4 linked regions of the Homo sapiens genome follow. The protein of the gene in region 1 interacts with the protein of each later gene in a biochemical or structural test. Each region holds a gene or a part of one and is shown in the gene's direction. Other genes may lie near its edges.

The links.
Region 2: the proteins of TLE1 (region 1) and RUNX1 interact in far-western blotting, tested with the Homo sapiens proteins (one study listed by BioGRID and IntAct).
Region 3: the proteins of TLE1 (region 1) and TLX1 form a complex in vitro, tested with the Homo sapiens proteins (one study listed by BioGRID).
Region 4: the proteins of TLE1 (region 1) and HES1 form a complex in vitro, tested with the Homo sapiens proteins (one study listed by BioGRID).

The regions. Positions count from the first base shown.
Region 1 is NC_000009.12:81,679,545-81,686,564, reverse strand, and holds part of TLE1 (transducin-like enhancer protein 1), read left to right. Parts: intron 1-668; coding exon 669-732; intron 733-844; coding exon 845-889; intron 890-7,020. UniProt on the Homo sapiens protein: Transcriptional corepressor that binds to a number of transcription factors. Inhibits NF-kappa-B-regulated gene expression. Inhibits the transcriptional activation mediated by FOXA2, and by CTNNB1 and TCF family members in Wnt signaling.
Region 2 is NC_000021.9:34,829,303-34,836,322, reverse strand, and holds part of RUNX1 (runt-related transcription factor 1), read left to right. Parts: exon of another isoform or gene 1-10; intron 11-1,721; coding exon 1,722-1,913; intron 1,914-7,020.
Region 3 is NC_000010.11:101,126,310-101,134,299, forward strand, and holds the start of TLX1 (T-cell leukemia homeobox protein 1), read left to right. Parts: upstream 1-4,990; 5' UTR 4,991-5,232; coding exon 5,233-5,800; intron 5,801-7,829; coding exon of another isoform or gene 7,830-7,865; coding exon 7,866-7,990. UniProt on the Homo sapiens protein: Controls the genesis of the spleen. Binds to the DNA sequence 5'-GGCGGTAAGTGG-3'.
Region 4 is NC_000003.12:194,131,504-194,139,161, forward strand, and holds HES1 (transcription factor HES-1), read left to right. Parts: upstream 1-4,644; 5' UTR 4,645-4,877; coding exon 4,878-4,985; intron 4,986-5,113; coding exon 5,114-5,209; intron 5,210-5,457; coding exon 5,458-5,545; intron 5,546-6,179; coding exon 6,180-6,730; 3' UTR 6,731-7,229; downstream 7,230-7,658. UniProt on the Homo sapiens protein: Transcriptional repressor of genes that require a bHLH protein for their transcription. May act as a negative regulator of myogenesis by inhibiting the functions of MYOD1 and ASH1.

The DNA.
Region 1 (7,020 bases):
AGCACACAGATGAGGCGAAGTGGCTTGGGTGTGAATTTTCTTACTTTGTCAGGGGCTTTCTCATTATTGACCTTTTGTCTACTTGTAGATAATATCTCTGCAGCTTGAGGCATACTTGCACACACCGTGTTTACCCAGCAGGGAGAACTTCAACCCACTTTATTGCAGTAGCTACTTGACATATTTTGGCAGGGATTTAAAAACCAAAGGTTTTGAAAGGGACCAGCAATTGTAGGAGTAACTTAACAGATAGGATTTTCAAACCTAGAGACCGTTTGAGTTGGCAAAGATGGCACAGCCTATGCCTAAGAGTGAAGATTGTGCAAGGGCCGGATTTTGGTGGAGTACAGAGAAACAAACTGATGCAGGAAGGTAGGGAGCAGATGACCATGAGGAGGAATCAGTTAGAGGTTCTGACAGATTTTTTTCATTCTTGTCATCTAACCAGATAGGCACCAAGAAGAATGGTAGCTGAATGGACACCTTGTATTGTTCACATTATTCCTTTTCCCTATTAAATGCAAGGACAAAGCTTTTGGGTGTTTACCTAGATAGTTTATGGCTTTTCCAAATTGGTCTGTGTTTTTACTTGAAGTGCAAATATGTGAGGCAGATGTTAAAACAAGTGACATAATGTTTACATTAAGTTGCCTGTTTTGTTTTCCTAGCCTTAAATTGGAATGTGAGAAACTGGCAAGTGAAAAGACAGAAATGCAGAGGCACTATGTGATGGTAGGTATCAAAGATTGGACTTTTTCCTTTTTCATATGATATTAGCAAACGTGTTAGCAGAGTGTAAAAAACATGAGTTAATGAAATGCTTGATTCTTTTTTCTCTTTACAGTATTATGAAATGTCATATGGATTAAACATTGAAATGCACAAACAGGTAAGCTTTAGTTGAACTTCAAGCTGAAATGAGACATCAGTTCATATGATTTAATAATACTGGCTTTGTTCTCAGTAGTGGGCTCTAGGGGTGGGGGTTTGTATGCTATTTTTCTGCCTTGGTTTCCTGTCCTGTGGATTGATGGTAGTATTCTGCATCAAGGGTTGCTTCTTGATAATTACAAGTGTTTAAATGACTAGGAGAGGGAGAGGTGTTTTGGAAATATAAACTAGCCTCTTTATTGACAGATAGGAATTAAGACTTGAGTTTACTTTTTCACCTGTATAGATTTATCCTCTTGAAAGGGCTGGGTATCTTCTACAGTTGCTGAAGTTTAGAATAGTTAATGTTTTTGTGCTGTTTTGCAAGGAAGTGTGGACCTGTTGGGGGGAAAGAAGGGTATTCAGGAGTTTTTTTTAATCGTGGTAATCAAGGTATATGACTATCTGTGGAGTATTCTTTATGCTTTGGGGCTGCATGAAGCAATAGTCAGGATTAGTGGCTTATTAGCAAACAAATTTTTGAAAAATTTCTCAGTTGTTGCAGGTGTGGATGTGAAAAAAGCATCTTTTTATGGCCAGAGCATATGTTGGGAGTTGCTTCAGTCCTAGTGGTTTTTAAAGCATGAAAAGATTAGTGACTGGAAAGCTCTAGCAATGACTATGAGTTTGCAAGTTCCCATAAAATTCACACTTATGGCTACTATAATGGTGTATAAAAAGAGTATTGAGCTGGAACAAGGCACTAAGGACCTCATAAGAGAAGAAAAGCTAAATGATTGCTCAGCCCAAAGGACCCTCGATTGAGTAGTCATTGTCTGCCAAAGAAAGCATTAATGGCAGGGTGTAAGTATTCTGGAGATACGCTGACATTCACTTTTTCATCAAGACGCTGGTACAATAAGTCTTTTAGAAATCGATTGCCTCTTAAAAAATTATCATCAGATGAAGTTGCACAGTTGGACACATTTCAAAGTGCAACAATACAATTCTTACTTGATGTATATGTGCTATTTCATCTCAAACCCTTGTTTCATTAAATTAAAGAGCATGGCTGACCGGCTGGGGCACAGTGGAGAAATTGATTAGTTCAGCCTTCAGATCTTCCTTATATTCAAAGACTTTCATTAAGCAAGTGTGTTTCAGAGTTGAATTCTGCTTTTGTAACTCCGCACTCTTTGATTTTTAATTCATCATAGATTTCATAATGTTAAGTTATCGTGTACATTAGATCTGTTCTCAGATTTGTGTTTGGAAAGAGATTGTGATTTTCAGGGCCTTTTATTAATAATGTAATTGGGCCTTTAAAAATGCAGATTTTACTATGATTTACAAAGTTGGTAGCCTACTTTATGTTGGGTTTGTGCCTTTGTTTTTGTGTGTTTCTCAGTGGCTAGTGCCTTATTCAGGCACTTGTAACTTCTTGATAGTAAATGGGCTAGAAGATCTGTGGCTAACATCTATCGTCATTTAAGTGAATTATGCAAATAAACTTGGCCTAGGCGGTTTAATCTTTTTTTTTTTTTTTAATTTACTCTGAAGGGCACTTTTTTTTGGATAACAGATATTATGGAAGAGTAAGAGGAGACTGAGCTTTTTCTTAAACCCATAAACTCAAAGGATTTAATAACCTCATTGACTCTTTTACAAGGGAACACCACCTCAGTGTGATGCTATATGCTGGTGCTGGGTTTATTGGAGGAGCTAAAAGAGGTGTGTAATTCTTCTGGGTTCCTGTAGGTTATGTGGCGGGATGACCTCTTCTTTATCATGTAGGGAGAAGGGGTGAAGTGGGTCAGAAGCACCATGGTGTGAGAATAGTTTTCTAATGAGTTTCTATACAGAGTGAGGCATTTGTGGCTATATACTGTCTGTCCGTGAGCCTGTATGCATTAATAATATGCTGTGTATAATTGGCTTAGCAATTTGAAAAACGTGAAAAGCTGAGAGACACCATGTTCTTCATAGTAGGGTACTGAGCCTCCTGAAATTTAGTTGATATTGGAAATGCTGACAGACCCTTAACTAGAGTGCTGTGCAAAGTAGTGCTATAATTCAGTTTAAAGTGGACTTACATTTGAAAAACATCCTTCTGAATGTCACACATTAATAATAAGTTCTGAGGAGGCATTTGGTGCAGCTAGTAATCATAATTCTTATTAAAACTGGTGACGTCTGGCCCCCAGGGTGTAGCCAAGCTCAAATTGATGCTTTTTGCCGCCTGATCACCAGCATGGCCTAAGTGCTCATTATATTGTAGAGAGGGCCTTTGGAGCTCTCATTAGATTTGACAGGAATTCTCTCTAGGGGGAAACTGGGCATTAGCGAGACTCCTGACAGGCTGAAATTATTCCTGCTTTATGGCTTATAACCAAATGCTAGCAAGGCATCATCAGGGGACACAAAAAATTGTCATTTTTGACAACATCTTTGTTACTAAAAAAAAAAAAAAAATGCAGTGATGGGGAAACTTTCCGTACAGAGAGCTTTAATGCTGTTAAGATTTGTCTCCAGTGTGACGACCGCTCTCCCTTCCCACCTTTCAACGGGTTTGTCGGAGTGAGTTCTAGAGATTTCAGTGTCAAATCTCACTGCTGACTTTCCTGTCTGGAAGTTTTAAAGTGAAAGTGCATCCAAATCAAGAATGGTATAATTGTGGTTTCCTTTCCTGGTGTGGTGCCCACAGCCCGTGTTTAGGTTGTGTCAACACTTCCTGATAAGCCTTGCCTTTACTTTCTCTGCTCCCGTTTGTGGCGGGTTACCGAAAAGGCAATGAAACAGGAATGGTAATAGATACTTAAGTCTTTCATGGTAGCACTAAGAATATTTTTTTCTTGGAGCCCTTTATAGATCCCTGTCTGCCCATCTTTATCTGTGTGGATGGTAAACTCTAGATATCTCTATACAGTAGAGGTAGACAATGTCTCATGGAAAATTGAGGCAGTTCTGATACCATCAGAGTGTTAGGGTGCATTAAAAAACAGCAAGTTGATGTGAGCCTGGTGGTTTGCCTAGCTGTGCCTAGTGTGTGTGGTGGCGTGATCTTTAAATGTTTTTGTCTGTCATATGGTTTGATATTACCTCATTTGATATTTTTGGGAACAAGATGTACTGTAAATGCACACATAAACCTTATTTTAGCCCACTCATGTTATCTTTTCAGCATGCTGATGAAGCCATGCTATAAATTGTCATTGGTGGCTTTAATTTGCACAGTAATGAACAGTTTTCAATGTGATTTGTCTTCTGTGACCTCCATAGGCATCCTCCAGAGTAGATTGGGTAGGTGTTTTGCTCTGCCTACAGCTGTGTGCACGTGTTCAGAGTCTGGGACTTGCTCAAGGCCACGCATCTATTGAAGCTTGAGTTGGGTTGCCTCCTCCAGGGTTGTCTGTGCTGCTGCTGCTGCTTTTTTTTTTTTTTTGAGATGGAATCTCGCTTTGTTCCCCAGGCTGGAGTGCAGTGGTCGATCTCTGCTTACTGCAGCCTTTGCCTCCTGGGTTCAAGCAATTCTCCTGCCTCAGCCTCCGGAGTAGCTGGGATTACAGGTGTCCGCCACCATGCCCGGCTAACTTTTTTTTTCTTTTTTTTGTAGTAGAGAGAGGGTTTCACCCATGTTCGCAGGCTGGTTTCGAACTCCTGACCTCAAGTGATCCACCCACCTTGGCCTCCCAAAGTGCTAGGATTACAGGCATGAGCTACCACACCCGGCCTGTCTGTGCTTCTTCCTATCCCCTCATGCTGCCATCAGGAAGATGAGGTGGACCATGTCTCCCTAGTGCCTGCCTCTTCAGTTCTGACTCTTTGTGCTGATGAACTTCATGATTTGTAAGACATGTCAGGACTGAATGTATGTTCTAAAAGTTAGGAGAATCAGCAGTGCCGCTGACTGGTCTTTCTGGGGAGAGGAGGGTCACAGGCCATGGGTAGATAAAACTACTGAGCAGTACTGTCCTCAGGTTAAAGTATGTTTAAGAAGAAACAAGTCAGGAATCCTGGTGGAGACCCAGTGATGGGGAGGGAGTTTGATCAGTCACTTTGTGCCTGTGTTCTGCTGAAGAATGGGCAGAGTGAGAGCACTGGGCTCTCCAGGATGGTGAAGAATTTTTTTTCTTTTTTTTTTTTGCGCGACGGAATCTCGTTCCGTCACCCAGGCTGGAGTGTGGTGGCACAGTCTCGGCTCACTGCAACCTCCGCCTCCCAGGTTCAAGCGATTCTCCTGCCTCAGCCTCCTCAGTAGTTGGGATTACAGGAGTCCACCACCATGCCTGGCTAATTTTTTATTTTTAGTAGAGATGGGGTTTCACTATATTGGCTAGGCTGGTCTCGAACTCCTGACCTCAAGTGATTCCCCCCGCCTCGGCTTCGCAAAGTGCTGGGATTACAGGCATAAACCACTGTGCCCGGCCGATGGTGAAGCATTTAAAAATAAATGAAAAGACTAGCTCTGAAAATCTGAAAGGAAGGATGATATATTCTGCAATCCTGGTTGGGAAAGGGAAAGAGCTCCATGTGATATTTCAGCAAGCAACATCTCAGGCCATGTAAATTTTGGAGTGAAACTGCTTTTACAGTTTTGATGTGTGCTTTAAAATTTCTCTTAGAAAAATGCGTTGTTCTTTAGTGGGTTTTTAAAAAAGTATTTAGATGGGACTGTTAGGGACTCACCTGTGGGATATTTCCTTAGATGTGATTCTTTTACTCTTTTGCAAATTTTACCTTAGTGTTTTTTTTGTTTTTTTTTTTTAACCCTGTGTGTTTTTGTCTACAGTTTCTCACTTTGAGATTTTTTTTCCCCCTAAGTCAACATCTCACACAGGGAAATGACTAGCTAGAGTATAGGCACTTAGAGTTAAGCTCCAGCAGGTGTTAATAATCTTGTCATACAAAGAGGGTAGCTGTCATCAAGATTGGAGTGGTCCTCAACTTCATTAGCCAGGCCTGTTCTTTGCAAGCATAAGTTAAAAGAGAGAAAGCTCTCTGCATTTAGAGCCTAGATTCCGAGGTGCAAGATTAGCCTTTGTTTCTTATCAGCAAGCAGGACTGATCTCTCACCTCTCAGTCACCTTCCCCACCCTTCAGCAGTGGGCCAGTGGCTGGTTTTTGTCCTGGACTTGCACTGGAGTAAGGCAAGGGAGTCCCTGGGCATGGATTTTAAGAAAATCACAAAACATAGTTATCATGATCAATATTTTGAAAATTCAAACGGAATGCCCCCAAAATCTTCAAGGAACAACATGTCCAAATTTTGTATTAGGGCAGGATCCAACAGGGGGAGTTGGGAATAGGGTGAGGACAGGAGGTAGAGTCAGGCCATTGCAGGGCCACAGCACCTCCCTTGCCTCCCCCTCTTTCTGCCTTTGGTTACCTGTCCTGTGGGGAGTGGCCATGAACTATAGGCTCTGACTTGGTTCCGTTGTAGTTCATTGAAGTCATTTAATTGGGGATTTCCATTCGGGACTGGGCAAGTCATGAACACGTTCCCTGGCTTCAGTTCCCCTCTCTGTATAATGAGGGTTAGACTAGACAAAAGTCTGTTTGTTCCCTCGCATGGTGGGAGCCATCCCAGCATACACCCGCAGAACCCAGCACCTCGTGCGTGCAAATTGAGGAGCGTCCTTCGCCAGAGGACTTAAGATGTTCTCCCAAATAGTGTTTATTAAGAAACAGAAAGAAAATCTGTTTCTTTAGTAAATATTTAAATAAATCATCTTGAGTGGTAGTTAAACTAAAAATATATTCAGTTACTGGCTCATGGAACCATTTTAAGTTTCCATGGATCTGAGTCTTTGCTGTTTTATTATTAAACCTTTTGTGGTCTCCAGAAGTGGATTAAAGGGGAGGAAACTGAGAAACTTACTGGCTTTCCTCAAAGCTTTGATTGATTTCGTTTCCTACCCTCTCCCCTCCCCATTGCTTATTGTTGCCTCTGATTTTTAAAAATGGAAATTCTCACAACTAGTACCTTTACTACAGGGTATTTAGTATAGTGGTTTTTAAGTAAATTTTAGACAGCTGTTTCTGTCGGTGGGCTTATTTGACAAGAATAGGCATCTGTACCTTCAAAATACTCCTCACCAGAGGATTGTTCTGTGAATACGGTGTGATGTTTTAAGTGGAACTAGGATGCGC
Region 2 (7,020 bases), on another chromosome or scaffold:
CTGGCCCCATGGCCTTTCATCCACAAAGCCGGTGCTTAAAATACGCAGCCAAGAACAGGCCTCCCACATGCATGCTGAGCCTGCGTGACTCAGGCTGTTTGCGTTCAAGTCTCCTGTTGTGGGCTGGAGCGCTGAATCAGAGTCCAGATTTGCCTTGGTGACACATGACAAGAGGGGCCATTGCATTTGAACTACATAAATATTATGCTTAAGTGTTTTTCCTCATTTTGGAGCCAAACAGGTCTCGTTAATGATAAAATCACTGCAATATAGTGGGCCCTTTTTTTCTGGTCTGGAATTTGAGACAATGTCAACTGTGCCAAGGGGCCTGGCAGCAGGAAGAAATGGCCAGCCATGGAGATTTGCAGCCATCATGCAAGTTATACCATTTAATTTTATAATTGTAGCCATTGGGAGCTGGACTACAGTGCACTTCTCGTGGTCTGCTCTTACCCCAGGCTGCGGGAGTGGAATCAAGGGGGCCTCTTTCTAGTCTAGGATTGGGTCAGGGCATGTGAAATAGCACTTTATGGGGGCAGCGGGCAGGCTGTTTCTCAGTCTGGCTTTGGGGACATTTGGCAATAGGGAACAGAGGTTGTGCAATCGATCAAGGACTCTTTATTGGAACCATAAGGCTGAGGAAGCAGCAGGAGGCCATTGTCTTTAAAAGAGAAATGAATGGCCCAGGCCTCCTGTGGCTACCTCCCTACCTTGGAGCCTCAGCTTTGCACGACAGGACTGGCTCTGGTTTAAGGACATTTTGAGAAAACCGTAGGCCCCAGTCCCCCATGAGTGGCCTCTGCTTGCTGCTTCCTGGTGACGGTTGTTTTGGTGAAGAGCATGATGAGGACACTTGCTATCTATATAGACACTGAGGGGCCCACCATCCCACCCTATATAGACACTGAGGGGCCCATCATCCCATCCCACCAGTCCTGAGCCCCCTGGGGAAGCTCACCAGATAGGCTGTAGCTACCTCTGGGCTCCAGTGGGCCTATTCTGCTGGGAATATTGGACAAGACACAGGCGAGGCCTTCCTGTCAACTCCTCCTTAGGGGTACATGGGGGAGTCGGCTTCAGGGAAGAAGGAATGCTTGTGAAAAGCCTGTGAGGAGAGGGAGAGGGAGAGGGGCTGAGGGGCTGAGGATGCCCTGCGTGTACCTGGAAATGGGACCTCCCCAGAGGCTGTGGGTTTGCAGCCACGCCTCATTTCCTCTTGGAAGGGGCCCTACCACTAAGCTGCGGGGCCCACTTTGCCGCCTCTAAAACGTGCCAGTGGCTGGGTTTGCAGTAAGGAACAGCCGTTCTGATGCCCCTGGGAGGCCACCTTTCCTGGCTGCCACAGCATAGCCCCTGGCATGTGGCCATGTGCCAACAATTAATGCGCCTCTTTCCCTCCCGGCATCACCACCACCGCCAAGTTCTGTATCTCAGTGAGTTGTGCCCATTGGAAGTGGGTGTAGAGGGTTGGGGAGGGTGCCAAGGCCCAGACTGGGGGAGCACTCTGTGGCCGAGGCGGTGAAAGGGGGCCCATTCTGCTGAGAGGACAGTGGCCCCAAATTCAGCTGGCATATCTCTAGCGAGTCTATGTTGGGGTGAGGGGAGAGAGAGGGGAAAGACAAGAAAAGCCCCAGTTTTAGGAAATCCACAATACTTTTTCTGATCTCTTCCCTCCCTCCTTCCCTCCCCCCATCCCCTCCCCTCCCTGCTCCCCACAATAGGACATCGGCAGAAACTAGATGATCAGACCAAGCCCGGGAGCTTGTCCTTTTCCGAGCGGCTCAGTGAACTGGAGCAGCTGCGGCGCACAGCCATGAGGGTCAGCCCACACCACCCAGCCCCCACGCCCAACCCTCGTGCCTCCCTGAACCACTCCACTGCCTTTAACCCTCAGCCTCAGAGTCAGATGCAGGGTAAGTACCAGATGGAGCCCACTGCCCGCCTCTCCTGCACCTGGGCCACCACCCACAACTGGCCCCCATGTGCACACACCTTCCCAGACCAACTGGGGTTTCCCCTTGATGCTCAGAGAAAGGCCTCGAACCAACAGCACCACCTGGGAGCTGTTGGAAATGCAGAGTCTTGGGCCCCACCCACCCCAGACCCACCGAGTCAGATCTGCATTGTAACCAGATCCCCACAAGGAAAAGCACTGCTACAGAGGATACGAGGAGCTCTGGGTATGGATATCCATATTGGATAGATAGCTCTCTTGAATTTTTTAAGAGTTAGCTTTGGCTATGCTATTTTTTTACCTACCCATTAGGCTTGAAGACACACACGCAGACACACACACACACACACGTCAAGCAAAGTGAAGATGGGATGTTTCAAGTTCTCGCTATTGCCAGATTATTTGTGGGTTTTGTATCTAGTGTTTTTTTATTATTAAGAAATAGTTGAAATGTATGGATGTCATCACATCAAGGGTGTTATTTGCAAATCAATAGAGAATGCAGGTCCCCCCAGCCCATGGGGCTAGCTGGCAATTACTAAAGCGCTGTAAGATGCAATAATTGCCTAAGGCCCACTGTGCCAAATTAGATAATACAAGAAGTTCATTTACACTGTAGACCAGTGACGTCAATGACTGTTTGCTCTGTGATACCGTTTCAAAAATCCAAAATGCAGACTTTTCTCTGTGCCATGCAGGATGCAGCTGTGTGTGATATGGTTTACAGTAATATTTCTTTCTCAAAGTAGCAGGCTTGTTAAGGAAAAGATAAGCAACACATCTGGGGAAAAGGGCAGGTGGCCAGCAATCGATGTGGTAGCTCTTTGCCCCTCTCGGACAGCAGGAATTAGCTTCCCCAGGCATTTTCTGTATGTGAGTTGTATTGTGGGATGTACAAATATCATCTGTTCCTTTGGGTTTCCAGGCCAGTAGCTCTCTATTTTGGGTTCAAACATGGGTTCTCAGGCCGGGCGCGGTGGCTCACACGTGTAATCCCAGCACTTTGGGAGGCCAAGGCGGGCGGATCACGAGGTCAGGAGATGGAGACCATCCTGGCTAACATGGTGAAACCCCAACTCTACTAAAAATACAAAAAATTAGGCAGGCATGGTGGCGGGTGCCTGTAGTCCCAGCTACTCAGGAGGCTGAGGCAGGAGAATGGTGTGAACCCGGGAGGTTGGAGGTTGCAGTAAGCCGAGATTGCACCACTGCACTCCAGCCTGGGCAACAGAGCGAGACTCCATCTCAAAAAACAAACAAACAAACAAACAAAAACATGGGTTCTCAAAAGGCATGCCCACTGTCTCCCATGGAGCTTGACAGCCCATGCCATTAGCTCTCACTGTTAGGTTTCTGGGGAAGGTTCTTCTACTTGATTGGAAAATTTCCAAATAAATCTTTCCAGAAGATACTATGCACACAGCTAAGTGGCCTGTCTGTGGAGTAACCCTTTTGTAAACAAACAGAAACCTAAAGCTTGATGTTTTGGGGGGCTGCCTGTCATCTATAGGTTCATTTAGGTGTATTTAGGAAGAGGATCCATGAAACCACTGGTTTCCTGTTACATAATAATCATTAATAATGATTTAAAATGTGTACATTGATTTTTTTTAAATTCCAAAATACAAGCGTATATGGTAAATTAAGTCAAATGGTATGTTCAGTGAGCGAGATGGGCTTGGGGCAAAACAATACTTTGCTTCCAAAGAGGATACAACTCTCAAGGAGATTCTTTCATCTTGCCTTTAAGGTCATTTAAACTAATTCACATAATCTTCAGAAAACTAATTCACATCATCTATTCATGTGTAAAATCAAAAGGAAGACTGTTTTCTTAGTCTCTCGTTGCCTAACTGGCCATTTATACTACTAGGTTGATTAAGGGATTTGCCTTTTTCTGCTGATATGGGAACAAAAAGTCTTAAGCATTTTTAAAGGCAATGGAAAATTCAGCCACATGGGGGAAAATTGATATTGTCACCATTGAGTTGCTCTGTTTCTTGGTGAAGAGTGAATCTAATCTGATTTCCTTCTTCATCAGATATGCCTCTTTAACAACAAAAACAAAAAAATGGGGGGAAGTTGCACATTGAGTTCTCATCCTCTGAAGCTCCTGGGCAAAAGCATTATTGTGGACCGTGTGATGGGCATTCGTCAGCTCTTTGGAGACCTATATGCTTAGTAGAGTATCAGGTTTAACACTAAGCATCGCCCCTTTTTTGTTCCTCTTGAAAACTTTTACTTCTGCAACATTTAAGAAATCATAACTCGCTTTTAGAGTTCCTACGGGCTTGGTTGCTACTCTAAAGAATGTGTGAACTATATTGCTGGTGTTCTTTCTTTCCAAAATATGAATTTGATATTCAGTACTTCACTTGTAAAATTTTAGGAACAACTTTTAAAAAATAAGTATCCAGAATATTTTCATGTGAAACAACTTTTCCTTTTCCTTTTGTTCTTTCTTTCCTATAAGAAAACGCTGTTTTACGCTAATCATGTTTTGAGTAGACCCTTGGGCTTTTTCTCTTGAAATTGGAAAGTTAACAGGTATAATATGCAAGTCTTGTTCAGCCAAGACCTTCAGTTTGTTCTTGACAGTAGGAAAATGCTTATTTTCCAGGCTCAGCCCTGAAATTTCTATGTTATATTTACGAAGATACTTTAAGAAATACAGCATGTGTTTCTGGCTTTCTTTGAAATGGCAGTGGTAGTTTTCAGAAAAATATCCAATTTGTCAGAGTAGTTCCACAGTGGTGCTGTCCAGATGCATGAATGTTTTTCAGCTTTACAGAAATGTCAGTAACCGGGGGTTTGGCGAGCTTGCCGGGATTTATAGAAAGGCTCAGGAACCCTACCTTGCTAGGACTTTGTCAGAAGGGTTATGCCAGCTCCTCTGACTCTGTCAGCAAGAAAATACTGATATAGAATAGCACCAATACTTACCTAGAATCACATGTGCTGGAGGGTCACTCAAAATAGACATCTCAAATTATCTGAAGCACGGTACAGATTGAGAGGGGGCAAGTTGTCATGCCACTAAACCACTGTTTATTTGTTGGGGTCTTAACTATTAAAGGGCTGAGGTTTATTTCAACTTCCTATTTTACCAGGTCTTAAACTGGTAAAGCCATTTTGTCATGAAATAGAATAGAAAGCCATTTTGTCATGAGTAGACCCTTGGGCTACACGTTTCTCCCAGTCAGGACACCATCATTAACTTCTACGATCGAGTCTTAGAATTCTTTTTTAATTTATTTCAAAAGATAGAACAGGGCAGATTCTAGAGCTAGTGGTACCGATGCCTGTTCAGTCACAACTCCCACCTAGAGATGGGTTTGGGCAACCCGAGTGAGTGATTTTAAAATTTCACCCCTGATTGACCAAATATGATGTATCACATTTAAGGTGTCGTAATTTCCTCCTTTCTGGGAATATGAGGATGGAGTAATAGATGCTGGTACAGAAAACTGAAACCTAGATAAACTAGGAAGCCCATTTTGTTGTTCTTCTGCATGCTGGTTGTCATAAGCATGTAGGAAGAAGATTTAACTCTTTAACTGGACCAGTTGTGAGCTATTTTGACGTGGGTCAGACATTTGTACATATTATTCCATTCCCTCAACAATCCTGTGGTATCATTTATAGACAGAGAAATCGAAATTCAGAGGTTAAAAATTGCCCAGTATCTCAAAGATTGTAAGTGATGAACTTGGACGCAAACCCAGACCTTCCTTGCTACAAAGCCAGTGCAAGTGGGATGGCCGTTCCCTGGGCGTGCACTCTTGGGTCAAGGATCGATTTACTACAGGGCTGACCAGTGTCGAGAAGAATCCCAATCACCAAAGGAGGGATGGAAAAAGTGTTGGGCTATCCACTCACTTGGCATTCTTGTATTGAACATGTTCTATTATAATTAGATGTTGATAATAAGAAGAATTTTGGGGCCAGGCTGTGTGGTGGGCACCTTAATAAACTGTCTCCTTTGGTACATGTGCATTTGTTTATAAAGTTTGGGAGAAAAGAAAACTCAGAATAATGAATCTCTAAATAAGAGTGAAAGAGGGGGTATATGAGCAGGGAGAAGGCTTACCAGCCACTCTGTTTACTTTATTGGGGCCATTGCCTTCCTACTTTTGAAGTTCATTGGGACCAAGTGCTTATCATCCAAACCCAGTCAACATCTAATCCACTTTTATGAGTATGCGTGCCTCACTTTGAGTGTTCCATATGGCCAAGAGGGGTCCCTGACCTCTCAAATCATCTCTTGATTTTTAGTATTCCAAGTAACTTCTGTCTTGCTAATTATTTTCCCCCAAAATTAAAGTTACTTAGGAAGGACTATATTCTGGTGCTGCTGTCTGCAAAACTCTGAGATACTGAAATGACCCTGTTTCTCAGTTGTATAGAGTTATTTAAGTCCGTCTGATTCTCTCTTTATCATCTGGATAGACAAAAGGAAGAAAACCTTTCCACCTTCCTGTAGGAGAAGGAGATAAATCCTCTTTCCAGCCTTGGAGGTAAAATATCCAACTGCATTGCATTGCTTTCCTTTCTCTCTCCCTCTCCTTCCCTCTCTTCCTTACTCTTCTAGCAATTTGAAGTTTGAAAACAAAGGGAGTAGGGACTATTTGATTACCTTGAAAGTGGAGGCTACAATCAAACACCAGAAATCCTCATATGTGAATCTATAAATGGTCATTTAATGGTTACACAAAGTAACATATTCAGAATGTGAGAAATTAATTTATATAATAGGCTATAAACATGACAGGTGAATGATTTCATTTAAAAATAGCTTTTAACAAGGTGTAGTAGGGTATGAGAGCCTTTCCAGGTCTATAGCATTATAATCTTACCCCGACAACAAGCCTGAATCAGGTGTTCACAGGAATAAATAAAAATAATTAAAGGAAAGAAGGGAGAGAGAGAGAAGAAATGAAAACCAGTGGGATGACTGCAGAGATTCACTGCAGGGCTTGATCTTAGTGATGAAATATTTCTTCTGTAGACTGCATATGTTCTGAACTTTCCCCTTATGCTTGTAAATATGTAGGCCAGCACACCCA
Region 3 (7,990 bases), on another chromosome or scaffold:
CATCACAGGCACTCACTACAGAGGAACAGTTGTAAACACATACTCATCTTGTTGCAGAAAACACATTCACTTGCATTCTCACTGACACATACATCCTCACATGACAAAATCCAGTTGTATAAAATACCCAGACTCCCTTCTTTTCCTCCAACACTCTTCCCAACATGCATTTTGCTTGCAGTTGTATCCCAACAGCCTAACACAGTGCCTGATACATACTAGATGCTCTATAATTATTCATTGAATACATTGTTAAAATTATTTCTTAAAGACATGCCCAGGACATCTGCACAGCCCTCTCAATCCTGACTGTCACACAGGCTTTCCCATCCAGCTTTCCCCTCGTGGATGCACGGCCCCACAAACACAAAGTAATTAAGTTTCCACACATATCCGTAAGCTAAAGGACAACCCCTGGCCCGGGGGTCTCTTTCAGAGCGGGGAAGAGGAGGAGATTGTGTGGGATCCAAAGGGGCCTCCCCCTGGGCTGAGCCCGTCCTTTCCTCCTCCCCCAGCCCGGGCCCTGGCCCCAGCTGCTCTTCTTTTAATTGGAGGCACTTTTTTATTCTGCAGGCCAGGGGGAGCCGGTGCTTGGGGGGAGGGGTGTTACCAGGTGGCCTCAGAACCAGAGAGAAGGATCTGCAACTCACCTAGGTTCCTGCAAGATAGTCCTGTGAGGCAAGAGCCAAGTTTAGGCTTAAGGAAGCAGCTTGTAGTGAGTGGAGTCAAGAAAGCAGTGTTTGCGTCTGGTCTGCCCCTTTCCAGCTTTCAGTGCCTTGGTTTTCTCATCTGTAAAATGGGGATAACAAAAACCACATCACAGGATTAAAGATGAGTGGAGAGATCATTCTGGTGGCTCACACATGGCAGTTGCTCTGTGAGTCCTGCTTTCTTCCCCTCCCTCCTCGTTCCTATCAGGGCTGTTTTGCAAGGCATGCAAAAGCACGGTGGAAACACAGAAGCTGCAGCGAATATAAACTTGTGTGAGTCTCCTCTCCTGTTTCAGAAAACTTCCCAACCTTGCAACACCGTGCTCAGGTAACACTGCTCTCAGGAGAAGGGGTGGGCGCCAGAGCCCAGCAAATCCTGACCCTCCAGTCTCATCTTTCTAGGTAAGGAAGGGACAGAGAGGGTAGTCTTGGCCCTCAGTAAATACCCTATTGGAAGACAAAGGCTGGGATTAAGCTGACTCACAGAATCCCAGCACCTCATTGAGGGTAAAAGTTGGGAGTATCCCCAATTGGGATAAAAGTTGACTCTGATAAACAAAAAAGGTAGGAGGGGAAAAAGGAAGAAATCCGTCAAGGAAGCGGCTGTGATCGCAGGGGAAAGTCAGTATATCCCTGGGCTGCTGGATTTTAATGAGAAGAGCTTGACAGTCTTAGTGGGCCATGTACAAGGGAGTGGTGACTCTGCCAACCTTAAGCTGGGCCAGGAATGGTAAAGTCTCCTCCCAGGTACCCTGGACAACTGATACCAGATCTGAGGAGTTCAAGAGGTAGATCAGGCAAATGCCAAAAGGGTTGGAAGGCCATCTGAGCTGGAGATGTGCACCTGGAAAGATAGGTGGTTTATTTTATTTTATTTTATTTTATTTTATTTAGTTTTATAAATTTTACCTTCAACCAACCCACACCAAAAGATGGGGTTTTAACTGCAGCAGGTAAAACTGTGGTGAGACTAAAAGGAGTGAGGCCACTAGGACCCAGCCTCAAAAAAAGCTGCAGTACCCTTCCCCATAGTTTTCAGCCTCAAACAAGGAAAATAGCTCAGATTTTGAGATTCCAGATCAATCTTCTCTGTCTATGGAACTTGGAGCAAGTTTGTTCTCTTTACTGAGTCTCAGTTTTCATTTTCTTTTTAGAGATGGGGCATTGCTATGTTGCCCAGGCTAGAGGTGCAATTATAGCACATCTCAGGCTCAAATTCCTGGCCCCAAGTGATCCTCTAGCCTCACCCTGCAGAGCTGCTAGAACTACAGGCACGGGCCACTGCACCCAGCCATTTTTTTCTTTTTAAAAATGAGATATAATTCATGTGCTATAATATTCAGCCCCTTTAAAATGTATAATTCGGTGGGTTTTAATATTTTTAAAAGTTATGTAACCATCACCACTATCTCATTCCAGAATGTTTTCATCACTCCAAAAGGAATTCTGTATCCATTAGCAGTCAATTTCCATTCCCTGCTGCCCCCAGTTCCTGAAAACCACTAATCTATTCTCTGCCTCTGTGGATTTGCCTATTTTGGACATTTCATAAAAGTGGAATCATACAATATGTGGCCTTTGTGCTTGGCTTCTTTCACTTAGCAGAATAGTCTCCTAGGTTCATCCATGTTATAGCATGAACCAGCATTTCCCTTCTTTTCCTTTTTATGGCTAAATAATATTCCATGTGTGGATATAACAAATTTTGTTTATCTATTCATCAGTTGGTGGACATCTGAGTTGTTTCCCCTTTTGGGCTATCATGAATAATACTGCCATGAACATTCATTCAATTCTCTCAATTATAAAAAATTGGGACATTTCTATTAACTTGCCTGGGTTGTTATAAGTCTTAAATGAGATAAGCATGATGTGGTACCTGGCACAAAACTGTCTTTCAATAAATAATTTATTTCTGCTTTAGTTCCCTCAAGATAAGAGGCAGGAAGAGATTCATTCGGGTTCAGACAACTTCCAAAGTAAGTTATGGAACTCCTTGGGAAGGGGTAGAGTACCTGGATTGGGTAAGTGGGAAGAAGAGAACTGGCGAGGGAGCGGAGCCCTCTCATGTTTCTGCTTAGTGTTTTTTTTTGTTTGTTTGTTTTTTGAGATGGAGTCTTGCACTGTTGCCCAGGCTGGAGTGCAGTGGCGCGATCTCAGCTTACTGCAAGCTCTGCCTCCTGGGTTCACGCCATTCTCCTGCCTCAGCTTCCTGAGTAGCTGGGACTACAGGTGCCCACCACCACGCCTGGCTAATTTTTTGTACTTTTGGTAGAGACGGGGTTTCACCGTGTTAGCCAGGATGGTCTCAATCTCCTGACCTCGTGATCTGCCCGCCTTGGCCTCCCAAAGTGCTGGGATTACAGGTGTGAGCCACCATGCCCAGCCTTCTGCTTAGTGTTTACAAACAACTACCAATTTCACATTTGGCTTTGTCTTGAGTGGGCCTTTGTCCACCTGGCTAGAGCTCAGACAAGGTTTTCCCCACAGATACAAACTTCCAACCAGCACGTAGGTTTCCAGGCTAACCCACAAAAGCAAGTTGAGTCTAGCTCCTCCATATTGATCCACACCAATCATAGCTATTCTGAAATGTACTTTCCTCACATCTGTAAAATAGGGAGAATACTCATCTCGAAGGATTGGTGTAGAGTTTATATTGTTCTCCATAATACTAACATCTGTCTTGTTGTATTTGCTTCTTTGCTTATTGTCTGACCCCCTCTATAGAATGTAAGCTTCATGAGGTCAGGACCTTTGTTTTGTTCACTGCTATGTCCCCCATGCCTAGAACAGTGCCTGACACATAGTGAGTACAGTACTCAATAAATATTATTGAATAAAGAGATACATTCTTTGTTATTCACCCAAGATGACCATATTTTGTTGTTTGGGGCTGTATTCTTCAGGAGAGAACAGAAATGAATAAGCCACTCTCTGCCTCCAAGAAGATCTCTTCAAGTGGAGGTGACAGACATGCCCAAAGCAAATAGATTGCAATAAGACTTGATGGGAGAGAATGTGAGTCTTCACATCCTAGCATCTTTCCAGATAGAGACAGGGCCTACCCAAAAGTCTAATCTGAAACTGAACTGAAATAGAACAGAAATAGATCCCAAGTGATGGAACCTGTGCCTTTCCCAAAGCTTGGCTTCTAAAAGGTAGCAAACATTTTCTACTGGAGAGGGGAAAGACAGGAAGAAGAAAAAGGGAGTTTCCTCCTTTTCTCTTGGGCTCTCAGCCAGACAGCCACTGGCAAAACGTTGGAAAGGCCTAAATTTGTCCTGGATGCACTTCCCTGATCCTAGTCCCACCAATCCCAGCCCCCACGGCCTTAAGCCCCTATGGCTCCCTCCCAAGATTCCAAACGTAAGAAAAGAACACACACCACAGTCCAAAGGCTTCTTGTCTGGAATAGCCAACCCTGGGGTAATTGTTAGGTGGAATGCAATCTGGTTGAATTCATTCAAACACTGTAGGAATTGCCTCTTTCGAACCCTGTAGGATTTTACTTCTTGACGCATCTGTTTATTTAAAACCAAAGGGGTATGTTGAGGCATGGGCACCCTGGCAGCAGACCCCAAACCAACCCTCTTGACTTGTGCCTGCCTTTCAGGATATGTTCCCTTCCTGAATTTGTCTAAGAAGGCTGAGTTGGGGGGTGGTTGCTGATTTTTATAACATATAGCCAGTTGTTCATAGGCCTGTGTTTTAAAGAAGGGCAAGCCTGAACTCACCGTCCTGCCTCAGGGCCTGGGCTCCATACCTGGGGAGTAGACAGTCTTCTACTTTCTAAAAAGCTGGACTTGAAATTTGGAGTAAATCTCCTGGTTGAGTGACAGGTGTTTCGCAGCTGAGCCCTTGAGGAGATTCTCCAGTTGGGCAGAGACATCCCTTCCTCAGACGCCTTGTGGGCTGGACTCCTTTGGCCCAGTTCAAAGTGAGGGGAGGGCTCCCAACAGGCCGGGAAGACAGTTGACTTCACCCTCCTTGGGTTTGTCTGTCTGTCCGTCTCTGGGAATGGTCGCTTCCTGTTTTCCCTTTTCCTTTTAAGCCTCGCCTTGTTCCCCTCTTCTCTCTCTTCATGAACTACTCCGAGTCTTGGTCTCCGTCCCTCTATCTCTGGCTCCTGCATCTGTCTCGGCTTCTGGCCTTCCTCTCCCCCTCCCCTCCCCTCCCTCGCGCTGTCATTCACCCCGCTCCTCTCCGCGCACAGCCAATGGAGAGACCCAGTCGAAACCGCGAAGCTCTCTTGCACCGGGCTTTTTCGCCTGGTGATTGATGTCCCAGAGTCAACAGCGAGCGAGCAGCCGGAGCGGGGAAGCAGAAGCCAGAGAGGGGAAGAATACGGCGCCCCCTCTCTCCCTCCCCTCCCCCTTCTACTTTAGCCTTTCTGCGCACTTCGCTTCCAAGTCTCCGCGCAGCCAGGAGCCGCTGTTGCCTCCCAGCCCCTGCTAGCTGCCCCCCGAGCCGAGCGCAGCGAGCGCCGCCGCCCGGGCCCCCCGGTGGGGCCAGGGCCAGCATGGAGCACCTGGGTCCGCACCACCTCCACCCGGGTCACGCAGAGCCCATTAGCTTCGGCATCGACCAGATCCTCAACAGCCCGGACCAGGGTGGCTGCATGGGACCCGCCTCGCGCCTCCAGGACGGAGAATACGGCCTTGGCTGCTTGGTCGGAGGCGCCTACACTTACGGCGGCGGGGGCTCCGCGGCCGCGACGGGGGCTGGAGGAGCGGGGGCCTATGGTACTGGAGGTCCCGGCGGCCCCGGAGGCCCGGCAGGCGGCGGCGGCGCCTGCAGCATGGGTCCTCTGACCGGCTCCTACAACGTGAACATGGCCTTGGCAGGCGGCCCCGGTCCTGGCGGCGGCGGCGGCAGCAGCGGCGGTGCCGGGGCACTCAGCGCTGCGGGGGTAATCCGGGTGCCGGCACACAGGCCGCTCGCCGGAGCCGTGGCCCACCCCCAGCCCCTGGCCACCGGCTTGCCCACCGTGCCCTCTGTGCCTGCCATGCCGGGCGTCAACAACCTCACTGGCCTCACCTTCCCCTGGATGGAGAGTAACCGCAGATACACAAAGGACAGGTTCACAGGTGAGTCCGGCCCGCGCGCTCCCCGCCTGGCCGCGGCCCGGGCTCCGTGCTACCCCTGCCCCGCCGGGTGGCTCCCCAAAGCCGGTTCTGCGCTCCAGGTCGCCCAGCTCTTCTTGGTGCTTCCCCCAAGTTGAGCCGCCCGCCCGATTCTATAACGCAGACTCGCCATGCTTGAAGAGTTCTCTCAGCCTGGACCCCTCTCTGTCTCCCGAAGGACCCCTGCTCGGAGGAGCTCTCCCTGGTCCCCTCTCCGGATCCACTAGCCGGGTCAGGCAGAGAGAAGGAGGCCATAGATTCAGGACCACCTTCTGCAGCTACTCTTGGCCTGGGAATCTTAGAGAAAGGGGTGCAACGTGAACAGTTTCTTCCGTCCTGGCTGCTGTTCTAGGACCCAGGAAGCGAGCCCCAGGATCAGACACAAGAAAAGAACAGGTTCCCCCACCTCCAGTCCCCTACACACATGCACTTCGCGCCCCTAGCTCCGGTGCCCGTGGTGCTGCGGGGCCAGTGGGGGCTCTGAGCCCCGGTAAATCAGCAGAACCAGTGGCCTTTTTTTTTTTTTCCGGAGAGCAGGCTTCATCTGGGAGGATGGCAGCGGGGCTTAGCCGCCCAGGACAGCTAGCTTTTCATTTTCGTTCTCTCCCGGCTGGGTGTCCTACCCCGGGCCCAGCCCTGTTATCTTGGGCACGAACAATGCACCGGTAGGCTGGTGATCGGTGGCGGGAAGACTACTCCCGGGACATTGGGTACTAAGTGGTGGCCGCTGCCGCCTTCTCTGCTGCCCGCTCCCGCCTTCCTCTGCTGGCCCTGGCTCCCTCTGCTCCCGTTTCCACTCTGGGCACTCAACTCTCCCTCTGGCGTGGATCCCTTCCCCCGTTCTCACTTTCTGCTCCCCTTAGGGTTCCCTGGATCCTAGACCACGATCCTTCCGTCCGGGCTGGGAAGCAGCCACAAATTGAGCCCAGGTTAGCCAGCCGATCTTAGAGAGAGGAGGCAGGAGGCACTGGCTGCTGCTGGCAGAGATGGGGCCTCCTGGGGGTCCCCCGGTTCAAGGGCCCAACAGTGGAAGGGGGGTTTACATAACTACTTGGGAGAAGCTGCTGAGAGCTAGATACTGGGCCAGGAGATTCCAAAGCACCCCTGGCTTCCTGCTTCTGTTCCAGGCAGCAGCACAGCCAGGGAAACTGCTTCTGCAGCTTCTTACCAGACTCTGGGGCCACGGCAGAAGTGGTGTGGAGGCTGGTGTCCAGAGGAAGAACAGTTGCTTGGGTCTAGGCCTCAGGAAGGGCCCTCCCTAGAGGGGTCCCAGTGCCCCCAACCTAAGTTTTCTCTGGCCTGGGGCAGCAGGGCCTGGTGCCCATCCCATTCCCCACCCAGGCCAGGCCAGTCTTGAAGGGCCCTGCTGGAAACCCAGCCGGGAGTCCACTAATCCTGGGCCTCTGGTGAAAGGTACTCGGTTTAGGGCCTACCGCGGGGCCCTAATACTGTGTCAGGCATGAAGGCGGTTTCAGCGAGTGTATGGCTGTGGCCTTGTTTTGCTCTGTGTCCTGTGTGCTTGTCCCGTGCCTGTGCTTGTCTGGTCCTGTTTGGGTGTATAGATCTGTGAGTTTGCCCCCGTTGTACGTTGTGTTGGTGTGTGCTGCTGTGGATGGAGGCTCAGGTCGGGTTCCAGAGTCAGGCTCGGCCTCTTACTCTGAGCCTGAAGGCCTGGGGCTGACTGAGGGGAGGGGAGCGTGACCATTAGCTCGCCTTAGACTGCCCCTGGAGGAGAGGCGGCAGGGAGGTGGTTGGGCTCGCGGGAGCCCGGGGCCAGGGAGGCCTCCGTGGTAGCGGCGACGGCGGCGTCGGACTGGCGGGCAGGAGGAGGCCGTTTCCCGCCGTGGGCTTGTCGCTGAGGGCTAACGGGAGGATCTCGGCCCTGCTCGTGGGGGTTCAGCTGCTGCGCTCGCTGACTCGCGGGGTGTTGGGCCTGGGACGCTTCCTGACGCTCTGCTGCTTGCCTCTGCCGTCTGTCTGTCTCCCGCTCCAGTGGCCCTCTCACCCTTCACTGTAACACGCCGTATAGGTCACCCCTATCAGAACCGGACGCCCCCCAAGAAGAAGAAGCCGCGCACGTCCTTCACACGCCTGCAGATCTGCGAGCTGGAGAAGCGCTTCCACCGCCAGAAGTACCTGGCCTCGGCCGAGCGC
Region 4 (7,658 bases), on another chromosome or scaffold:
TGTATTGGGCATGACACGGTGAGAACGATTCAGAACGATGCTGGTGTCACAGGGGGATCAAAGAAGTGACCTCCACTGATGAACTGGGCTCCATTTTCTCTTTGCTTTGGGAGTCGGGGGAAAAGGATGACTGAAAAATAAAGGCTGTTTCTATCTATCTAAGAGCATTCTTCCAGATGCAGATGCTTCTTCCTGAGTTTAGGAGCTTACTGTCCCATTTGAGAAGGGGTGGGGAGAGGACAACGTTGGTCCTATTTTCACTGCCTAGCATAAGGAAACTGAAAAGTCATCTGTGAGCCCATCTGCAAGAAACTCTTCTTGAATGGTTAGAGTGGAAAGCCAGAGAGTTCCTGGAATTTATTTTTATTTATTATTTATTTATTTTTGGTCCAGACACAAATTCATAATTTTTTTTGTTACTTGAGCCTCTGTCCCCCTATCTAAAAACGTGTGTGTGAAAGTTACTTGCCCATTCCACCAGTCCAAGCACTCCCAAAGTGGCAATAAACGAGTTGCTGATTAACTATTTGACCCACGAGGCTGCTTTAGCCCCTTCAGTGAGACCCTAACTTGACCATATTCCATTCCCCATGCACCTTCAGGGCACCAAATAAGAGTGGGGAACAGAATCAGATGAAAAAGTCTCTTAGAATGGGCAGGGAGTGGCATAACCCAGTAGTTAATGAGGGCCGACCAGCAGACAGCAGTCAATGTCATGGCAGAGCCTGGCAGAGCCTAGCAGAGCAGGCACTGGTTCTGAAAGATTTGGGGGGAACCTGGAAAGGGTTAACATGCTTCCCCGGGAAGGGTTTAGTTCCTCAGAAGAATCTGGGTCAGTGTATTTGGGAAGTTTTTAAAAAGTCAGACGCTCAGTAGAAGCATTTTAAGAAGCTTGCAAAGCTTATTGGGGCCATGGCAGAAAGGAGGGTAACTTCATAGGCTCATCACCTTTCACCAAGAGGATTTTCACCACACAGGAAAACCCTACGTTTTCCAAAAGCAACAGACAATTTTCTGTCATCACCACTTTTCCATCTGTTTAAAATAAGAAAGAAAATTCCTTCCCCTTTGGCCCAGGTTGCAGGTCAACAAAGGAGGCATTGTTCATCATTTCTTCAGAACATGACAGGGCACAGCTCACTCTGCAGTGTAAGAAAACATTTTTTAAAAAAAATCTCAGAGTAGCCTTAGGGGCAACAGTGAGTAAACCAAAGCCTTCGATGAGGGAAATGTTTGGTTGCAGACTGGAGGACTATCCTGGAAGGTGGAAATGAGGCTTAGGTTAATACGGTCAGAGCCATGATTCCTTAGTTAGACTCAGGAATTAAATCTGAGTTCCTGAGTTCCTGGTTGGGGGTTGGGAACACTGCATTAAAGGGTAGGCAGGTTTGAGTTGAACTCAGTTCCCAAGAGCGTGCGGTCAATGTCCAGAGGAGCTGGATGTAGACAGATGCCTCTGGGAGTCAGTCTGCACCTGCCTCCTAGGAACCTTCTTCACTGGCTTGAACTGCCTAACTGCCCTTTCTGCCTCCAAGCCCTGCAATCCACTCTCCCACTTTTGCCAGAGCCATCTTTCTAAAGGGAAACCCTGATGCCTCTTCTTTGCTCAAGAATGTTTCATGGCTCTCCACTGTCTAAAGATAAGGTCCAAAGTCCTTCAGCAAGATGTTTAAGGAGCTTGTGACATGGCCTCAAGCTGCCTCTTCCAGTCCCTCACATTCCCTAGGCTCCAGACCATGTTCCCTGAATAAAGTCTTCAAGTTCCAGGATCTTGGCCTTTAATACCATGGGTACCTGCATCCTCTCCAGCCCACGACTAAGCACATTCCCAATGCCCCAATCCTACCTATTTTTCAAGGTACACAGGCCAATCCCTCCAGGAAGTTTTCCAAGGTACCCCAACTTAAAAGTAACTTAATTCTCCTGAAACTCCATAGCATTTTACCTCTATCCAGACATACGTCTCTCTTGAACCTACGACTTCCCAGAGGAATTTACTGGGCCATCCGTAGATGTCAGCTGTACACGTTTATATGTATCTCTAGACTGTTAGCTTCCAGAGAGCAATAACGGTCTTACTCACTGCTGTAAACCCAGGTAGACCAGCAATACTGTTATCCATACAAGTATGGTTTCATATTTTGTTTCTGTCCTCCTGATCTCTCAAGCCACCACCTAACTCAGAAAAGAAAGGAAAAATAAAGGAATGTCCAGTCATCAATCAGAAAATCAGCGTCTGTCTGCCCCCGCAGTTTACTGTCAACTTCTAGCAGGCCGCCACTGTATCTCTCACCGTGGAAATCCCAGGGTTTAACACAGTGTCTGACACTGCGCGTGTGTTCCACAATGAAAGAGAGAGGGGGGCTTGCCCAAGGTCACCCAGAGTCAGGAACCACTGAATCTCATCCGGGACGAGATCTGGCGAAATCATTGACAACGTTATCTCAGTGGGGAGCTGGGAGGCCGGAAGGAATGAAGTGTCTGAGAACCGTGCGCCAGGCCTCCGGGACGCGGGAAGGGCTGAGGGGGCGGGAGGCCACATCAAACAAGACGCTGGGCTCCCGGGCTGCCCGGAGCCGCGAGCCGAGCTCCCAGGCGGCGGGAAGGGCGGAGGGGGGGTGGGGGCACGGGGGCCGGCGACCCGGGCAGGCGGGAGGGAGGCGGAGGAGGCGGCCGGCCGGCCCAGGCAGTGCGCGCCGCCCGCCCGGCTCGGCAAATCCCCCAGGGAGGCCGCCGCCAGAGCCCTGGCGCTCCCGGCCCGGCGCCCGCCACGTGGCACCCGGCGGCGGCGGCGGCGACTCCTCCCGGCGCGCGGCCCGGCCAGCAGGCAGCACGCAGCCGCCCGCGCCGCCCGCCTCCTCCCGGGCGCCCGCCGGCGGCCTCCCGGGCGTAGTGAGGGGGAGCGGCCCGGCCGCCCGGGACCCGGGGAAGGGGCGGGCGGCGCGAAGCCGCTTTAACCGCAGTCGCCGAGCGGAGGCAGGAGGCTGACCCGGCCGCTTCCTAAGTGCGGTCAGGCATCCCGTGACCGCGGCGGGCGCCCAGGGCCCCGCGGGGAGAGGGCGGGGGCGAGGAGCAAACTTGGAGGCCCCCACCTCGCCCCCGGGCTGTTGCGAATGCGGCTTTCGGCCGAGTGAAAACCCCAAGCCCGAAAGTGAGGGTGGGGAGGCGGGGGTTGGAAGAATTCCCCACTCTCCACCCCGGGTGTGCGCTCCCCGCCGGGAAGAGCTGACCTTGGCCTGGGGAGGCGGGGGTGGGGAGAGAGGGTAAGCGCCGGGGCTCGGCTCCCAGCCCGCCGCCCCCTCGGATTCCTGGCCCGGCGGGGCCGGAGGAGGGGGCCCCGGACACACACACACACACACCCCCCACACGCAGCGCGCGCCAATGAGCCCGGGCCAGGCGCAGGGGGCGGGGTTTTCCCAGGCTCGAGCACAGCAGCTGCTATTTACCTTCTTGGCTTCTCCCGGGGACCAGGAACCGGCCCCCGCTCTCCGCCGCCCGTCGCCGCCCCCCGCCTCCCTGCCCCCGGGGCGCGCGCACACACACTCACTCACACACGCACGCACACACACATCCTCCCGGCCCGGCCGCAGCCGCGGCGGCAATAAAACATCCTGGCACGTGCTCCGGCTCCAGGCGCGCCCACGCCGGCCGGCTGATGTCAAACTGCAGCTCGGCTGGTGTAGCTCTTAAAGGGCCCGCGGGCGCCGGGGGCCGAGGCCGCCCGCGGGGCGAGGAGGGAGAGGCTGCTTCCTTGCCCGCCACCTCAACGCGCCGCAGAACCTAAAGCCTACGGATGAAAAGGGAAAGGGTGGTGAAGGAGGGCGCGAGTCCCTGAGTCATTGCCCTCGGAGCCCCCCTTGTTCATTTTTTCATTTGAAATACCGTTTCCTTCCACCCAGTTGGAAATTATTCTGATTGTTTCCTGGGGAAGCCCGGGGTCTAAGGCCCCAAATCCAAACGAGGAATTTCTGAAAGACGGGGTGGGGGTGGGATTCAAGAACTACCTTGCTCCGAAAAACCTGCATTTGTGAGGTAGAAGGCAATTTTTCCTTTTTCTGCATGGAAACAGGAAAATTTTTTTGGCCCTTTTCCTTTACCATCTACTTTCACCCTCCTGAATGTAAAGTCTGAGCGGGAACTTTAGATGTGTCGGTAACTCACATTCTTACACCCGTCCCCCCCTCCCCCCGCCCCCTTTTAACCACTGCTGTTTTTTTCTTTATTGTTTATACCTTTAAAAAAAATATGTTTCAAATGAACTTACTACAGTCAAAGCAGCTCTGTTACATATGAGAGAGGGCATAAAGAGCAAAGACCCTGGCTCCAAAAGAAATAGACAAGATCAAGACCAAAGCGGAAAGAAAAAAAAAATCTCTAAACCAAAGCCCAGAGGGAGAGTAGCAAAGGGTTAAAATCCTTTTGATTGACGTTGTAGCCTCCGGTGCCCTGGGCTCAGGCGCGCGCCATTGGCCGCCAGACCTTGTGCCTGGCGGCCAATGGGGGGGCGCGGTCCACGAGCGGTGCCGCGTGTCTCCTCCTCCCATTGGCTGAAAGTTACTGTGGGAAAGAAAGTTTGGGAAGTTTCACACGAGCCGTTCGCGTGCAGTCCCAGATATATATAGAGGCCGCCAGGGCCTAGGGATCACACAGGATCCGGAGCTGGTGCTGATAACAGCGGAATCCCCCGTCTACCTCTCTCCTTGGTCCTGGAACAGCGCTACTGATCACCAAGTAGCCACAAAATATAATAAACCCTCAGCACTTGCTCAGTAGTTTTGTGAAAGTCTCAAGTAAAAGAGACACAAACAAAAAATTCTTTTTCGTGAAGAACTCCAAAAATAAAATTCTCTAGAGATAAAAAAAAAAAAAAAAGGAAAATGCCAGCTGATATAATGGAGAAAAATTCCTCGTCCCCGGTGGCTGCTACCCCAGCCAGTGTCAACACGACACCGGATAAACCAAAGACAGCATCTGAGCACAGAAAGGTAAGGGCGGTACCTGTATCTCTTTGCAGCCCCTCAAAATTAAGTAGGGGTTGGGGGGCTTCTTTCTGTCTTGAAACCCCGGGATGGCAGATTCCATGGGAACACAGAACTCTTTTTTTTATTTGCAGTCATCAAAGCCTATTATGGAGAAAAGACGAAGAGCAAGAATAAATGAAAGTCTGAGCCAGCTGAAAACACTGATTTTGGATGCTCTGAAGAAAGATGTAAGTGGGGAAATGCTGCTCGCTCTTTTAATTAAAAAACAAACACTTTCTCAGCTACTAAGAGTGAAACCCCCCGCCCTGCGGGGTCTGGCACTCGCTGGTACTGCGTTCTCCCAGGCGGGAGGGCCCGGCCTTATTCGCTGGGGTCCAGAGATAATGCTTGCGCTCCGTGGCCGGGAGGAGGGACCCCCAGCACTCTGAAGCAGCTGACACGGGGCTCACTTTCCTTTCTTGCCTACTCTATGCAGAGCTCGCGGCATTCCAAGCTGGAGAAGGCGGACATTCTGGAAATGACAGTGAAGCACCTCCGGAACCTGCAGCGGGCGCAGATGACGGGTGAGGGCGGCTCGCCGCGTCCCCCTGTGCGGGCGTCCCGCTCGCCTCGCGGTGATTTCTTCCAGACTTCCGCCCGTGGTTGTGAGAGGCATTCAGCTACATTTTACTGCCTTGGCTCACTCTTGCGTTCCCACGGTCTGGGGCTTATTTATAGCCACAACTCCAAGTTGTTACTGTTCCGGAAAGGGAGGGAAAGAGGTTGCAGCCGCGAGGGTGGCGGGCGCCGGGTAGGGGCGAAAGGACTTAGGACTGTGGCGGTTTGGAACTGCGTGGAGCCTGGGGGTCACTGGTTTAGCACTCCTTCCCGTTGCAGAAGGGGAAATGAGGCTTGGATGATGGATTGGGAGGCATTGTCCAAGGTCACATCGCGCGCGGGGGTGGGGGTGACAGATCTGGGGCTGAGATAGGTTTAAATGCAGCTACAGGGAATCGGGAAGGAGTGGCTCGGCTTTTGGCAGCAACGCTAGTGTGGAGAGGTGGCTGGTTTTTTCTAAACCCATCTCACCCTCCCTGCCGGAGGCAGTTTCACGGGCGCATGGTCAGGGAGGCGCGCCACAGGGACCTCCCAGGGCGGAGGCAGTGGCCACGGGGCCAGGGCCGTTCGGTGACCCGTCTGTCTCTTTCTGGCCCGCAGCTGCGCTGAGCACAGACCCAAGTGTGCTGGGGAAGTACCGAGCCGGCTTCAGCGAGTGCATGAACGAGGTGACCCGCTTCCTGTCCACGTGCGAGGGCGTTAATACCGAGGTGCGCACTCGGCTGCTCGGCCACCTGGCCAACTGCATGACCCAGATCAATGCCATGACCTACCCCGGGCAGCCGCACCCCGCCTTGCAGGCGCCGCCACCGCCCCCACCGGGACCCGGCGGCCCCCAGCACGCGCCGTTCGCGCCGCCGCCGCCACTCGTGCCCATCCCCGGGGGCGCGGCGCCCCCTCCCGGCGGCGCCCCCTGCAAGCTGGGCAGCCAGGCTGGAGAGGCGGCTAAGGTGTTTGGAGGCTTCCAGGTGGTACCGGCTCCCGATGGCCAGTTTGCTTTCCTCATTCCCAACGGGGCCTTCGCGCACAGCGGCCCTGTCATCCCCGTCTACACCAGCAACAGCGGCACCTCCGTGGGCCCCAACGCAGTGTCACCTTCCAGCGGCCCCTCGCTTACGGCGGACTCCATGTGGAGGCCGTGGCGGAACTGAGGGGGCTCAGGCCACCCCTCCTCCTAAACTCCCCAACCCACCTCTCTTCCCTCCGGACTCTAAACAGGAACTTGAATACTGGGAGAGAAGAGGACTTTTTTGATTAAGTGGTTACTTTGTGTTTTTTTAATTTCTAAGAAGTTACTTTTTGTAGAGAGAGCTGTATTAAGTGACTGACCATGCACTATATTTGTATATATTTTATATGTTCATATTGGATTGCGCCTTTGTATTATAAAAGCTCAGATGACATTTCGTTTTTTACACGAGATTTCTTTTTTATGTGATGCCAAAGATGTTTGAAAATGCTCTTAAAATATCTTCCTTTGGGGAAGTTTATTTGAGAAAATATAATAAAAGAAAAAAGTAAAGGCTTTTATGTCTTCGAACTGATTCTTCCAGAATATGTAAAAAGGCTTTTGGTGGAATTTGAATTACATGTAATTGGTAATTCAGGAATTGACTCTTTTGTTATTAAAAGAACATTTGTAAAAATCCATCAAACTTTTCACCAATCCTCCATGAACTAAAAAGACTAAATTCCATTTACTTTACAAGCAGCCATCTGGTAAGGCTTCCCTGATAAACTTGTGGTCAGTCTCTTAAAGGATTTCCAAAAAAAATGTTTTTAAGTTGCAGTCGGGTAAGTCTGCAGCCCTTGTTCTTCTAGCTCCTCCTGAGGAAGATTGAACAGGACTAAATTCACGAAGCTAATGGATCCAATCCTATTGCCCATTGCACGTTAAGGGTGGTTCCTGCAGCTCTCCTCTCAGGGTAGCTCACCAGCATCCAAAGCAAAAACACTTCCAACTGCTGCGCCTCCTTCAAGACTTGGGGTCTTCATTAATTAGCCAATCCTTTGGTTCAAATAAGACGTTCCCTAGCACCCAAAAGTTTCCTCTCCGCACCCTCTTAAAGCAAGCTGAAA